Linked DNA regions of Homo sapiens: region 1 is linked to region 2. The links come from fine-mapping of genetic effects on gene expression. A gene starts in region 2. The other region holds a variant in brackets. All regions are shown on one strand. Distances are from middle to middle. Region 1 overlaps SNX8 (sorting nexin 8). Region 2 holds the start of SNX8 (sorting nexin 8).

What was found.
Region 1: its variant is fine-mapped to the expression of SNX8 in lung (TOPMed, PIP above 0.99).

The regions. Positions count from the first base shown.
Region 1 is chr7:2,263,733-2,271,820 of GRCh38, forward strand. SNX8 (sorting nexin 8) reads right to left here. Exons shown (of 11, transcript NM_013321.4): 5 at 5,827-5,907; 6 at 566-726. Among named protein-coding and RNA genes, the nearest start is that of MIR6836, 10 kb to the left of the region's middle. RefSeq lists enhancers at 6,325-6,935, 7,545-8,088. The variant G/A (reference allele first, on the strand shown) is at 3,479.
Region 2 is chr7:2,309,741-2,317,828 of GRCh38, forward strand. It overlaps SNX8 (sorting nexin 8), which reads right to left and starts at 4,701. Exons shown (of 11, transcript NM_013321.4): 1 at 4,588-4,701. The coding sequence starts at 4,681. RefSeq lists enhancers at 1-248, 249-759, 760-1,268, 2,351-2,420, 2,441-2,610 and 4 more and silencers at 4,377-4,616, 4,717-4,986.

The DNA of each region.
Region 1 (8,088 bases), 46 kb before region 2:
AGACGGAGTCTCGCTGTATCACCCAGGCTGGAGTGCAGTGGCGCGATCTCGGCTCACTGCAACCTCCGCCTCCTAGGTTCAAGCAATTCTCTGCCTCAGCCTCCCGAGTAGCTGAGATGACAGGCACCCGCCACCACGCCCAGAGAACTTTTTTTTGTATTTTTAGTAGAGACGGGTTTCACCATCTTGGCCAGGCTGATCTTGAACTCCTGACCTCGTGATCCACCCACCTCGGCCTCCCAAAGTGCTGGGATTACAGGTGTGAGCCACCACGCCTGGCCTGGGATCTTTTTTTAAAGTCTCATCCTGACAGTGAAAAAACTACCAGACTAGAAACTGGTGAGCATTTACTCGTGCTCAGAAATCCGTGTTTCAGGGCCGAAATTCTCCCGTGTTTCTTCCAAATATGACCCCCCATGTGCCTGAGCCACTTTCTGCCCCTTCTGAGATGAAACAGGTCAGGATGCTGGTTATTACGGTAAACGCACTTTCCGCCCAAGCCCTTCACCAGCATGGATTCCCGTCCCACCGCGCGTGCCCCTGCAGAAGCTGAAAGGTCACCTACCTTAGCTCCTTCCCGAATATGAGAAGATCTGCCGCATTGTCGATGGCCCGCGATGCGATCCGCTCGGCCCTGTCGCGAAGCTTGTGAAAGCTATTGTAGATGTTCCGGATCAGCTCCCGGCTGATGGCAAACTGAGCCTGGATGTCAGCTGGGAGGAAGTCCTGACATCATGATGGGGGGAGAGACACTGTGTTAGTCGCTGGGGAGCACCTGTCAGACGGCAGCAGCCGGTCCCCCAGAAGCTGAGCCACGGGAGACACAGCAGGTCCATGAGCCACCCCGGGAGCCCCACTCCTCCAGGCCTGCAGGGATCACTCTGTGTGTCCAAAAAAGAAACAAAAACCATCATCACCTGCATGCCACAAACACAAAGACAAATGATCCCATGGGATGAGGACCACAGAGTCCACTGAAATCTCATCACACTGGAGGACCTATCCAAAAACACTCAAATAAGGCCAGGGGCAGTCACTCACACCTGTAATCCCAGCACTTTGGAGGCTGAGGCAGGTGGATCACCTCAGGTCAGGAGTTCAAGACCAGCCTGACCAATATGGTGAAACCCCATCTCCACTAAAAATACAAAAATTAGCTGGGCATGGCGGCATGCACCTGTAATCCCAGCTACTCCAGAGGCTGAGACAGGAGAATTGCTTGAATCCGGGAGGCAGAGGTTGCAGTGAGCTGAGATCGCGCAACCACACTCCAGTTTGGGCGACAGAACGAGACTCTGTCTCAAAACAAACAAACCAACAAAACACTCGAATAATAATCTTGCCGGGCGCAGTGGCTCACGCCTGTAATCCCAGCACTTTGGGAGGCCGAGTAGGGCGAATCACGAGGTAAGGAGATCGAGACTATGGTGAAACCCCATCTCTACTAAAAATACAAAAAATTAGCCGAGCCTGGTGGTGGGCACCTAGTCCCAGCTACTTGGGAGGCTGAGGCAGGAGAATGGCATGAACCCCGGAGGCGGAGCTTGCAGTGAGCTGCGATCACACCACTGCACCCCAGCCTGGGCAACAGAGCGAGACTCCGTCTCAAAAACTAACAATACTAATCTTTAGCTGGATACAGTGACTCACACCTGTACCCCAGCGCTCTGGGAGACTGAGGCAAGAGGATTGCTAGAGCCTGGGAGTTTAAGAACAGCCTGGGCAACATAGTGAAACCCCATCTCTCCCAAAAAATCAAAAAATTAGCCAGGCGTGGTGGAGCGCCTGTGGTCCCAGGTGCTTACAGAGGGCTGAGGCAGGAGGATCACTTGAGCCCAGGAGTTCCATGCTGCAAGGAGCCATGATCACAACACTGCACTCCAGCCTGGGGACCCTGTCCCCAGAAAACAACAAAAATAAAAACAAACAATCTTCAAGTTAAACACAATGAACATAAATTCCTGAAAGACTCTCCACATGGGGGGAAGGCCTCTTCTATGCCGCGTTTATTCCCAAAGACTTTTTATAAGATTTGATACTAACTATCAGAGTTCAGAAAACAGAAAGCTCAGAGAGTAAAATGAAGGTAAAAGATTTGGCCAGGCATGGTGGCTCATGCCTTTAATCCCAGTACTTTGGGGGGCCATGCCAGGAGGATTGCTTGAGGCCAAGAGTTCAAGACCAGCCTGGGCAACATAGTGAGACTTCATCTATACCAAAAACAAACAAACAAATCAGCCAAGTACTGTGGTGCATGCCTGTGGTCCCAGCTATTCTGGGAGGCTGAAGTGGGAGAATTGCTTGAACTCAGGAGGTCGAGGCTGCAATGACCTACGATTGCACCACTGCACTATAGCCTAGAGGACAGAGCAAGACCTTGTCTCAAAAAATAAAATAAAATAGATTTTTAATTTTTGTATGAAGAAGCAGGTTTTTTTCTGGTTTTTTTGTTGTTGTTGTTGTCGTCTTTGACACAAAGTCTCACTCTGTTACCCAGGCTGGAGTGCAATGGCACGACCTGGGCTCACTGCAGCCTCTGCCTCCTGGGTTCAAGCAGTCCTCTTGCCTCAGCCTCCCAAATAGCTGGGATTACAGGTGCCTGCCACCAAGCCTGGCTAATTTTTTTTTTCTTTTTTTTGATGGTGTCTCTGTCGTCCAGGCTGGAGTGCAGTGGCGCAATCTTGGCTCACTCCAACCTCTTCCTCCTAGGTTCAAGCAATTCTCCTGCCTCAGCCTCCTGAGTAGCTGGAATTACAGGTGCACGCCACCGCACCCAGCTAATTTTTGTATTTTTAGTAGAGGCGGGGTTTCACCATGTTAGTCAGGCTAGTCTTGAACTCCTGACCTCGTGATCCACCCGCCTCGGCCTCCCAAAGTGCTAGGATTACAGGCGTAAGCCACCACGCCCGGCCGGTTTTTTGGGGTTTGTTTTGCTTTTTTTTGTTTTCCTTTTTTGTTTTGTATTTTTATTAGAGATGGGGTTTTGCTATGTTGGCCAGGCTGGTCTCAAACTCCTGACCTCAAGTGATCCGACAGCCTCAGCCTCCCAAAGTGCTGGGATTACAGGAAGGAGCCACCGCGCCAGCCTGAAGAAGAGGTTTAAAAAGAAAAAACCAAAAACAAAAAAACTACCAAGTAGCTACCTTAGTCTTTTTTGGAAAAAGACCAAACTTTAAACATTTAATAATAAACAAATGTAACAATGAATCCCCAGAAATCTGAAAAGGTGCTGACACAAGCATCCGTCTGTCTGAGTCACAGAAAAGGGCAGAGGGCACGAGGTGCCTGGAGGGCCTGAGGGCAGAGCTCAGCCGCAACCCGGCCCTGCTGCTTAGAGGCTCGGGGCCTTGGCAAATGACAGCCTCCCTGAGCCTGTTTCTCCATCCGTAAAACAGGCCTCCCAGCCCTGTGTCGGAGCAACTGAAACGAGGGTTAAATGAGGAAACCATGCGACAGATGTCAGCATAATCCCTGCCAC[G/A]CAGAGGAGGCAAAATCACTTTGAAGGGTTAAAACTTGTTTCTCTGGTTAAAAAGGGATGTACTCTTCAAAGTTAGAAAAATACCTTGGCCCTCTCCCTCCCCCTCCCCCTCCCCCTCCCCCTCTCCCTCTCCCTCACCCCACAGTCTCCCTCTCATGCGGAGCCGAAGCTGGACTGTACTGCTGCCATCTCGGCTCACTGCAACCTCCCTGCCTGATTCTCCTGCCTCAGTCTGCCGAATGCCTGCGATTGCAGGCACGCGCCGCCACGCCTGACTGGTTTTGGTGGAGACGGGGTTTCGCTGTGTTGGCCGGGCCGGTCTCCAGCCCCTAACCGCGAGTGATCCGCCAACCTCGGCCTCCCGAGGTGCCGGGATTGCAGACGGAGTCTCGTTCACTCAGTGCTCAATGGTGCCCAGGCTGGAGTGCAGTGACGTGATCTCGGCTCACTACAACCTACACCTCCCAGCCGCCTGCCTTGGCCTCCCAAAGTGCCGAGACTGCAGCCTCTGCCCGGCCGCCACCCCGTCTGGGAAGTGAGGAGTGTCTCTGCCTGGCCGCCCATCGTCTGGGATGTGAGGAGCCCCTCTGCCTGGCTGCCCAGTCTGGAAAGTGAGGAGCGTCTCCGCCCGGCCGCCATCCCATCTAGGAAGTGAGGAGCGCCTCTTCCCAGCCGCCATCACATCTAGGAAGTGAGGAGCGTCTCTGCCCGGCCGCCCATAGTCTGAGATGTGGGGAGCGCCTCTGCCCCGCCGCCCCATCTGGGATGTGAGGAGCGCCTCTGCCCGGCCGAGACCCCGTCTGGGAGGTGAGGAGCGTCTCTGCCCGGCCAGCCACCCCGTCCGGGAGGGAGATGGGGGGGTCAGCCCCACCACCTGGCCAGCCGCCCCGTCCGGGAGGGAGGTGGGGGGGTCAGCCCCCCGCCTGGCCAGCCGCCCCATCCGGGAGGGAGGTGGGGGGCGTCAGCCCTCCGCCCGGCCAGCCGCCCCATCTGGGATGTGAGGAGCGCCTCTGCCCGGCGAGACCCCGTCTGGGAGGTGAGGAGCGTCTCTGCCCGGCCGCCCCGTCTGAGAAGTGAGGAGACCCTCTGCCTGGCAACCACCCCGTCTGAGAAGTGAGGAGCCCCTCCGCCCGGCAGCTGCCCTGTCTGAGAAGTGAGGAGCCTCTCCGCCCGGCAGCCACCCCATCTGGGAAGTGAGGAGCGTCTCCGCCCGGCAGCCACCCCATCCGGGAGGGAGGTGGGGGGGGTCAGCCCCCCGCCCGGCCAGCCGCCCCATCCGGGAGGGAGGTGGGGGGTCAGCCCCCCCGCCCGGCCAGCCGTGCCATCCGGGAGGGAGGTGGGGGGGTCAGCCCCCCGCCTGGCCAGCCGCCCTGTCCGGGAGGGAGGTGGGGGGGTCAGCCCTCCGCCCAGCCAGCCGCCCCGTCTGGGAGGTGAGGGGCGCCTCTGCCCGGCCGCCCCTACTGGGAAGTGAGGAGCCCCTCTGCCCAGCCAGCCGCCCCGTCCGGGAGGGAGGTGGGGGGGGTCAGCCCCCCAGCCCGGCCAGCCGCCCCGTCCGGGAGGTGAGGGGCGCCTCTGCCCGGCCGCCCCTACTGGGAAGTGAGGAGGCCCTCTGCCCGGCCAGCCGCCCCGTCCGGGAGGGAGGTGGGGGGGTCAGCCCCCCGCCCGGCCAGCCGCCCCGTCCGGGAGGGAGGTGGGGGGGGGTCAGCCCCCCTGCCTGGCCAGCCGCCCCGTCCGGGAGGTGAGGGGCGCCTCTGCCCGGCCACCCCTACTGGGAAGTGAGGAGCCCCTCTGCCCGGCCACCACCCCGTCTGGGAGGTGTGCCCAACAGCTCATTGAGAACGGGCCAGGATGACAATGGCGGCTTTGTGGAATAGAAAGGCGGGAAAGGTGGGGAAAAGATTGAGAAATCGGATGGTTGCCGTGTCTGTGTAGAAAGAAGTAGACATGGGAGACTTTTCATTTTGTTCTGTACTAAGAAAAATTCCTCTGCCTTGGGATCCTGTTGATCTGTGACCTTACCCCCAACCCTGTGCTGTGTCCACTCAGGGTTAAATGGATTAAGGGCGGTGCAGGATGTGCTTTGTTAAACAGATGCTTGAAGGCAGCATGCTCGTTAAGAGTCATCACCACTCCCTAATCTCAAGTAATCAGGGACACAAACACTGCGGAAGGCCGCAGGGTCCTCTGCCTAGGAAAACCAGAGACCTTTGTTCACTTGTTTATCTGCTGACCTTCCCTCCACTATTGTCCCATGACCCTGCCAAATCCCCCTCTGCGAGAAACACCCAAGAATGATCAATAAAAAAATAAATTAAAAAAAAAAAAAAAGAAAAAAAAAAGAAAAATACCTTGGCCCTGGTAGCCAGCTTACAGTTCAGGAATTCGTCCCCGACGCACTGTGCTGACTCCTTTAACTTGTTCTGCACATCCTGCAAAAGGAAAACACACAGCTTCACCCTCTTCTACTAGCAGCAAGAAAGCTGCTGTGGGGTATGGGTCACTGTGGAGCGGGAGGTCGTCTTTCCTCAGGAGAAACACATTTCCATATGTTGGCTTTGACATTAGTATTCTGCAATCTCTTGACTCTCCCTTAGATGTTTTTCTCACCAAACAGGACAGCCTGGCTTCACAGCAGGAGCACCACAAACCTGCAGCCTCTCTCCAGAGGCACAGCCACTCCATCCGCAGACGGGGGGCAGCTCTCCAGAGAAACAGCCACTCCATCCACAGACCAGGGGCGGCTCTGCAGAGAAACGGCCCCTCCATCCACAGACCCGGGGCGGCGTCAGCCCCAGAGATACCTGAGACCCTGGTAGCTTCCAAAAACGCAATAGAACAGGGCAAAAGTGTCTTCCTTCCTGGGAATGCATCCATGGCGCCAGGGACACCAGAGCCCAGGGAGCTGCTGGGCAGAGGGACAGGCCCAGCCCCTGGCACCGGAGCCCTCTCATCTGAAAGAGGCCTCCTGGGCAAAGCCGTGCCTTAAAGTCAGGAGCCACCCAGGAGATACAAGGGGAAACCCTAATATGCAGCTGTTTGCGTGTCCAGGAATTCTCAGGTTTCAGAGATGCCTTAAAGATCATCTGACTCAACTCTCATTTTACAAAAAAAAAAAAAAAAAAAAAAAAAAAGACCTGAGGCCCAGCATGGTGCGTGCCTGTAGTCCCAGCTACTCAGAGCCTGAGGCGGGAGGATCGCTGGAGCCCAGGGGTTCAGGGCCAGCCTGGGTAACATAGTGAGACCCCATCTCTAAAAACAGAAAGCAAGCAAGAAAACTGAGGCCGGGAAGTGACAGAGAATGATACCTGTGGGAAGGCCACAGGGAACGTCCTGCCCCCAGAACAGGGATATTGCCCACCTGTGACCCACTGCACCCCTGCCCACCGCCCCTCCCAGGTCCTGCCACATTCCTCTGCTGGCAATGCAGATCGCCTCCAAAGGAAGGTTTCCAACCCCAGGGCTCAAAAGATCCCACTGCCTGCTCCAGACATCCCCGGGGGCATCCCAGGGACATCTCAGGCACAGGGGGAAGGCCCCTCTGCCTCCGAGAGGAACGAAGACAAAAGGAACCAAGGCTTGTGTGAAGTCAGCCTGGGAGAGGGGGTGTCTTCCTGCAGCAGGGACAAGGACAGAGGCCGTCAGGTCCCCATTCAAGACGGGGTTTCCCTGAAATAGAGGAGAGCCTGGAAACCTCTATTCCAGTGGAGCCCCCGCCCCTCCCCGCACAGGGAGAGGGTCCTGCAGGCACAGGTGGAGGAGAAGCACAGGACCCGCCTTCCCTGGAGGGGCTGGCAGCTGCTTCCTCCTCCAGGAAACAGGAGCTGGGCTGCAGGGTTGTTTTTTGTTTTTTTGAGACAGGGTCTCACTCTGTCGCCCAGGCTGGAGTGCAGTGGCACAATCACAGCTCACTGCAAGCTCCACCTCCTGGGTTCAAGCGATTCTCATGCCTCAGCCTCCCAAGTGACTGGGATTACAGGTGTGCACCACCATGCCTGGCCTCAGTTTTGTTTTGGTAGAGACGAAGTCTCGCTATGTTGTCCAGGCTGGTCTCAAACGCCTGGGCTTAAGGGACCATCCAGCCTCGGCCTCTCCGAGCGCTGGGATTAGAGGCGTGGGCCACTGTACCTGCGAACTGTAGCTTCTTGACACACAATAAGGCTGTGCCGCAGCAGCTGGGAGGAGGGAAGCCCCACTCAGACCTCTGACGGAGTGCATGTACAACAAGTTAATTCCCGGATGCAGGTGTGGGCTGTGGCTCTGACAAGGAGGCTCAGCCTGTGTTCCAGTGGTCCTTAGTCAGACAGGGCCTTGTTTTAAGTCAACACTTCTTCCCATCTGGAGTCTCTGGCACCTCCCTAAACCCTCCAAACCATCCAGCCTAAATCCTCAAAGTGACCACAGAGATCCATGATCTCCACGCGGATTTACAAAATCCTGCAAAGTCAACACCAGGGACACCTCTGAAAATCACATTCAGACTGTTATCTGGAAAGGAAAGAAGTCTTGTCCATGTCATTCCTGCTGGGCGTCCAAACAAGGGACCAGGAGGATAAGAAACCACACCTGAGAGAGGAAAAGGCGGGTCCGGAGGCTCGGGGACTCCCCGGGGC
Region 2 (8,088 bases):
AAAGTATAAACTTTAAGTGACAGCGCAATGAATTCTGACCAACGTATTCACACAGAGAACAGACCTGACATGAGCGAGCAGCTGCAGGTAAGGGTTGATGGGAGCCCAGGGTGCATGGAAGTCGCCCAGGCAAGAGGGGAAGGCTCGGGGCAGGGGTGAAGGAGCCCCGAGGGTCAGCAAAGGCCCTGGACCTGCCTCAATGACACTCAAGGAGTCATCGCCAGGTCAACGCGGACAAACAGCACGGAGCTTCCGAACCGAATGGAATGTATGGAATGCCATGGGATGAGCCGCAAGTGAAGCGTGACTCACCCTCGTTCTAAAGAGTCAATGTAGGGCCGCAGGACTGTATACGGCAGAGCCAGGATACGCCGTGGTCATCTGTACATATTTCTATCCATGTATTAATCGATCCCGAGAAATCAGGCTGGACGACCAAGCACACTTACCACACTCACTGCCGTTCTCGCTGGATGTCACAATCATTGAGCTTCATGACCTAAGAACAGGCCCTGAAAAAAACCCTTATCCTGCATAGTCAGAGGACAGAATGTTCCGGTCAATCAGATATTTTGACAGGAATAGTTTCAATATAAAATCCAGCCAGGCTCGGTGCCTCATGCCTGAAATCCCAGCACTTTGGGAGGCCCGGGTGGGAGGATTGCTTGAGGCCAGGAGTTCCACACCAGCCTGGGCAACACAGCCAGACTGTCTCTACAAAAAATTTTAAAAATTGGCCAGGCGTGGCTGGGCGCAGTGGTTCACCCCTGTAATCTCAGCACTTTGGTAGGCCGAGGCAGGCAGATCATGAGGTCAGGAGATCAAGACCAACCTGGCTAACACGGTGAAATGCCATCTCTACTAAAAATACAAAAAATTAGTCAGGTGTGGTGGCAGGCACCTGTAGTCCCAGCTACTCAGGAGGCTGAGGCAGAAAGAAGAATGGCGTCAACCCAGGAGGTGGAGCTTGCAGTGAGCCAAGATCGCACCACTGCACTCCAGCCTGGGCAAAAGAGTGAAACTACGTCTCAAAAAAATAAATAAATAAAAATAAAAGGAACAAAAGAAAGCTAGAGAATATACTACGCTAGGGAAACATGAGCACACTTATATAAGGAAGTATATGTTTCCTGAGTACATATATGAATAAAATGTGAAAACAGAACTAAAACGGTCCATCCCAAACTGAGAACAATGGTCACCTCTCAGGTACAGACAGGAGATGATGGCAATTAGGATGGGACTTTCACTTAATCTACAATGTTCTATTCTTTTTTAAAGAAAATACATTTGTCCATGTATGGCATAACTGAAAATTAAGTTTTTATAAAGAGGGTTGCCCTAGAGAGCATTCACAGCTTAAGCTTCAAAGAATTCAAATAGAATGAGACTCTTAATGTGGAAAAGTACAACAAGCACATTTTTTTCTGGCAACACCGAAGATGCAGGAGATTTCACAGTTCCCACATGAATACCACCAGTGGGCTCTGGCTGTGTGGCCAAAACTCTAGAGAAGAGGAAATTCACTGTATACCCGTAAGGCACAACCACTCCTTCAAACCAACCTTAGTGAACGTGTAAGTCACACACATAGTCTCCGGACAATATTCAGAGACTTAACTTTTTTCTTTGCTGTTTTTGTTTTTGTTTTCTTTTTTAAAAATTTGAGACAGGATTTCGCTACGTTGTCCAGGCTGGTCTCTAGCGCCTGGGCTCGGGCGATCCTCCCTCCTCAGCCTCCCCAAGTGCTGTGATTTCAGACGTGAGCCACAGTGCTTGGTCTCAAGGCTGAGGTTTTCTCACTCCAGCCCACCCAATCAGGGTCCCCATCAACACACATTCCCTTGACATTGCCCACTTTGGGCAAATTACTTACCTCTGGATTTTAGTTTTCTCAATGTAAAAAGACCTGCGAGGCCGGGCGCGGTGGCTCACGCCTGTAATCCCAGCACTTTGGGAGGCCGAGGCGGCTAGATCACGAGGTCAGGAGATCGAGACCATCCTGGCTAACATGGTGAAACCCCGTCTCTACTAAAAATACAAAAAATTAGCCGGGCGTGGTGGCGGGCGCCTGTAGTCCCAGCTACTCGGGAGGCTGAGGCAGGAGAATGGCATGAACCCGGGAGGCAGAGCTTGCAGTGAGCCGAGATCACACCACTGCACTCCAGCCTGGGCGACAGAGCGAGACTCCGTCTCAAGAAAAAAAAAAAAAGACCTGCTATACCACTTCACCCACCTGCCAGGATGACGACCAAGTTTCAAACAGAAGGACAGTCTACGTCCCAAGAGTCTGTGAGCCCCACTTTCAGACTTGCCTGGTTACAGGAAAGGGCACTGTGAAGCACTGCCTTGTCCCAGCAACCCCCATCTGTGGATCCCATCAGCACTCCTGATGAAATCACCACTGCCCCCAGAAAAAGCCAACTACCTACAGGAATTCCAGGCCACACCAAAGGGAGGGCGGTCTCCCAGAGACACAGCTCCCTCAGGTGTACAGCGCTCAGACTATCTCTAAATTACACCATTATGGTAGCCTCTGGAGTCTACTTCTGTGAAGCCTGAAGGAAACACAGTCCCCTACACCTGCAGAGGACCCCTCCAGCAATGCCAAATTGCTTTACAAGCTGAGATAGCAGCAGCATTCCGATCCAATCACAGCCTACCTGTTCCCAAGTGACCCCTCGGAAAGGGTCCCGCCTGAGACTCACGCTGGCCTCCAACATGTGACTTCATGGACACAATGTTCTAATCAGCGAGAACTATCACGTGCCTCCCCTTACACTGATACAAGGGAAAGGAAAAAATAACTGAAGACCCATTCTGAAAGGCCCTTCTTTCTAGACACAGTCTTCACATCGAGGATGCCCACCAAATGCAACAATCCCTCCCCTGCTCCCCGCTGCCGTTTCTCGCCGACGAAGAAACTGTCTACCAACCCTCCAGAGCTCACTTCAGTCATCACCTCCTCAGCGACACCTTGCCAGACCTCCCCACAAGGGGATTCCCCAATCTTGTCCCCCCCCACCAAGAAGAAACCGTAACTCACACCAACACCCACCTACATCTCTTCTCTGGCAGCTAGGACCACAGGAAGGAACATCCAGAAATAAGGGGCACCCTCCTGTATTCCTTCTAATGTTTAGCCTCGTTTGTTTTGTTTTGTTTTGTTTTTTTTGAGGCGGAGTCTCGCTCTGTCGCCCAGGCTGGAGTGCAGTGGCGCTATCTCGGCTCACTACAAGCTCTGCCTCCCGGGTTCACGCCATTCTCCTGCCTCAGCCTCCCGAGTAGCTGGGACTACAGGCGCCCGCCACCGCGCCTGGCTAATTTTTTTTGTATTTTTAGTAGAGACAGGGTTTCACCGTGTTAGCCAGGATGGTCTTGATCTCCTGACCTCGTGATCCGCCCGCCTCGGCCTCCCAAAGTGCTGAGATTACAAGCGTGAGCCACCGTGCCCAGCCATGTTTAGCCTCATTAACCCAAATCCCTTAAAGAGAAATACAAGAGGCCAGGCGCGGTGGCTCACGCCTGTAATCCCAGCACTCTGGGAAGCTGAGGTGGTTGGATCACCTGAGGTCAGGAGTTCGAGACCAGCCTGGCCAACATGGTGAAACTCCGTCTCTACTAAAAATACAAAATTTAGCCGAGTGTCATGGTGGATGCCTGTAATCCCAGCTACTCAGGAGGCTGAGGCAGGAGAATCGCTTGAACCCGGGAGGCGGAGGTTGCAATGAGCCGAGATCGCACCATTGCACTCCAGCCTGAGTGACAGTGAGAATCTGTCTCAAAAAAAAAAAAAAAAGAAAAGAAAAGAAAAAGAAAAAAGAAAAAGACAGAAATACAGGCCAGGCACGATGGCTCATGCCCGTACTCCCAGCACTTTGGGAGGCCAAGGCAGGAGGACCGCTTGAGGCCAGAAGCTCCAGACCAGCCTGGACAACATAGCAAGATCCCATCTCTACAAAAATAAAAAAAATTACCGGGCGTAACTGCACGCGCCCGTAGTCCCAGCACTTTGGGAGGCTAAGGCGGAGGATCACTTGAAAGAGAGAGAAAAGCAGCTACACATCTATAGATTCGGTTCACAGATGAGAAAACAGAGGTCCCGAGAGGTGAAATTACTGGCCCAAGACCACACAACCGACAGGAGCTTGGGAGAGAGGATGTGGCTAGGAAAGGCGCCCAAGTCCGGGGAAGTGGCCCCCAGTGCCATCGCTCAGCGTGACCAGGCAGGGCAGAAGAGCAGGGCACCAGGAACGGGGCGAGGAGGAAACTGTCCCCGAGGACGCCTCTGAGAGCCCCGGGAAAGCGCCTCGGAACGCGGCCAGCTGTAACCTGGACAGGGCTCTCCCGGCGCAGGAGGGCAGGGGACCCCGAGGGACGGAGGCGCGAGAGAGCACGGGGACCCCCAAAGGACAGGCGCGCAGGAGGGCAGGGGGACCTCCGAGGGACTGGGGCGTGGGGCCGAACGCGGGGCGCGGGGGCAGGAAACGAGTCGGGGACCAAGCGCGGCGGCTGAGCCCCGTCCGCCGGGGGTGGTCGGGCCGCGCGCCCTGGGCAGGTGGGGGCTACCGCCGCCCCACGCCCTACCTGACGCCGGGGGATCCGCCTCCTCGTCAGCCTCCGCCTCAGCTGCCGCCCCGACTGCAGCCGCGGGCAGCGGGTCCATCGCGCGGCCAGTCATGTGAGCCCGCGCTCCCACGTGACTTCCTCCCGCGCCACCCGGCCGCGCAGCCCTGCCGCGCCGCGCCCTCGCCCCGCCCACACCCCGCCTGGTCACGCCCCCTCCCCCGCGCGCCACGCCCACAGTCCGCCCCTGCGGGCCCGCCGCGCTCCTCGCCCGGCCTCGCCACGCCTACAACCCGCCTAGCCACGCCCACATGCCCCTCCCCGTCCACGTGGACACGGAGCCTGCTGGTGGCGCAGGTTACCTCCCCTCAGGTTGGACCTCCGGACTCGCAGGTGCACTACCTCAGGCGCAAGCCTGCACCCACCGCACCCTCATTCACTCCCATCTCTCCTCGCCCAGTCACGCCCTTGTTCGCTCATTCACCGGTTACACTGGGGTTTTCTGACTCGCACTTCCTCATTCATCCACTCACCCACTCATTCGCTCACCCACGCACTGCATCCTGCATTCATTCATTCACCCACTCACTCACTGCATCCTACATTCATTCATCCACTCACACACTCACTCACCGCATCCTGCATTCATCCAGCCACTCACTCACTCACTGCATCCTGCAATCATTCACCCACTCACTCACTGCATCCTGCATTCATTCATTCACCCACTCACTCACTGCATCCTGCATTCATTCATTCACCCACTCACTCACTGCATCCTACATTCATTCATCCACTCACACACTCACCGCATCCTGCATTCATCCAGCCACTCACTCACTGCATCCTGCATTCATTCATCCAGCCACTCACTCACTGCATCCTGCATTCATTCATTCACCCACTCACTCACTGCATCCTGCATTCATTCATTCACCCACTCACGCACTGCATCCTGCATTCATTCACCCACTCACCCACTCACTCACTGCATCCTGCATTCATTCATTCACCCACTCACCCACTCACTCTCTGCATCCTGCATTCACTCATTCACTCACTTATTGCATCCTGCATTCATTCACCCACTCACCCACTCACTCACTGCATCCTGCATTCATTCATCCACCCACTCACTCATGCACTGCATCCTGCATTCATTCATCCATTCACTCACTCACTCACTTACTGCTTCTTCATACGTTCATTCACCCACTCACTCACTGCATCCTGCATTCATTCATCCACCCACTCACTCATGCACTGCATCCTGCATTCATTCATCCATTCACTCACTCACTCACTTACTGCTTCTTCGTACATTCATTCACCCACTCACGCACTGCATCCTGCATTCATTCATTCACCAACCCACTCACTGCATTCTGCATTCATTCAGTCACTCACTCACTGCATCCTGCATTCATTCATTCACCCACTCACTCACTTACTGCATCCTACATTCATTCATTCACTCACTGCATCCTGCATTCATTCATTCACCCACTCACTCACTTACTGCATCCTGCATTCATTCACTCACTCACTAACTGCATCCTGCATTCATTCACTCACTCACTAACTGCATCCTGCATTCATTCATCCACCCACTCACTCACTCACTGCATCCTGCATTCATTCATCCACTCACTCACTCACTGCTTCTTCATACATTCATTCACCCACACTCACTGCATCCTGCATTCATTCACCCACTCACTCACCCACTCACTGCATCCTGCATTCATTCATCTACCCACCCACTCACTCATGCACTTCATCCTGCATTCATTCACCCACTCACTCACTCACTGCATCCTGCTTTCATTCACGCAACCACTCACTCACTGCACCCTGCATTCATTCACCCACTCACTCACTGCATCCTGCATTCACTCACCCACCCACTCACTCACTGCATCCTGCATTCATTCATTCACCCACTCACTCACTCTGCATCCTGAATTCATTCACACAACCACTCACTCACTCACTCACTGCATCCTGCATTCATTCACCCACCCACTCACTGCATCCTGCATTCATTCATTCACTCACTCACTCACTCATGCACTGCATCCTGCATTCATTCACGCAACCACTCACTCACTGCATCCTGCATTCATTCACCCACTTACTCACTGCATCCTGCATTCATTCACCCACTCACTCACTCACTGCATCCTGCATTCATTCATTCACCCACTCACTCACTCACGCACTGCATCCTGCATTCATTCACACAACCACTCACTCACTGCATCCTGCATTCATTCATTCATTCACCCACTCACTCACGCACTGCATCCTGCATTCATTCACACAACCACTCACTCACTGCATCCTGCATTCATTCATTCACCCACTCACTGAGTCACTGCATCATGCATTCATTCATGCAACCACTCACTCACTCACTGCATCCTGCATTCATTCATTCACCCACCCACTCACTCACTGCATCCTGCATTCATCCACCCACCCACTCACTCACTCACTCACTGCATCCTGCATCTATCCACCCACCCACTGGCCCACTCAGGTTTGCTGGCTGCCACCAGGAGGTCAGGAAGCCCTGTGCTGGGTGCTGAGAATACAAAGATGTTTCCTGTGCATTCCTTGATCTGGAGGAGGCACAGATGGCCAGAGTGGAGCAAGTGTGCTAACTGTTCCAAAACGGGAGCAAGGCTGTGCAACACACCGCAGAAGAGGGTGAAGGGTGAAGGGCGATCCCTTCCCTACATGGGTGAAGGGATCCCTGGATGGGTGGTACCAGAGTTAGGGCTGGAGGAATAAGGAGTTAAGTAGGAGGAGGGCACGAAGGCTCTGAGACATCAGCTGCAGATGCTGTGGTCATTCCAGGCTAAAAGTGTGGGGTTTGGCATGGAGATTGGTAGGCCTGCATCAGGAAGGGCTTGTTTCCAAAGGAAGGATCCTGGACCTTCTTTTTTTTTTTTTTTTTTTTTTTTTTTTTTTTTTTTTTTTTTTTTGAGACAGAGTCTCACTCTGTTGCCTGGAGCGGAGGGCAGTGGCATGATCTTGGCTCACTGCAACCTCCGCCTCCCAGGTCAAGCGATTCTCCTGTCTCAGCCTCCCGTGTAGCTGGTATTACAGGCGTGTGCCACCACACCCAGCTAATTTTTGTATTTTTGTAGAGATGGGTTTTCACCATGTTGGCCAGGCTGGTCTCGAACTCCTGACCTCAAGTGATCCGCCCACCTTGGCCTTCCAAAGTGCTGGGATTACAGGTGTGAGCCACCGTGCCCGGCCATCCTGGACCTTCTAACGCTGATGTCACACAATGTCCGGGGAGTTGATTACAGAACCAAGAGCCCAGAACCATGTCAGTTCCTAGGAAGCGTCCCCTTCTCACAAGGTAGTTACTTCCTCTGGCTATAGCTGCTGGACCCTGCCTCGGTAACAGATGACTGCACCTAGGACGCCATAGGGTCCCCGCACACCAGGACCTCCATGCAAGCAGGCACACCATTGATGCTCTCTCCACCATAACCTGGGAGGCCA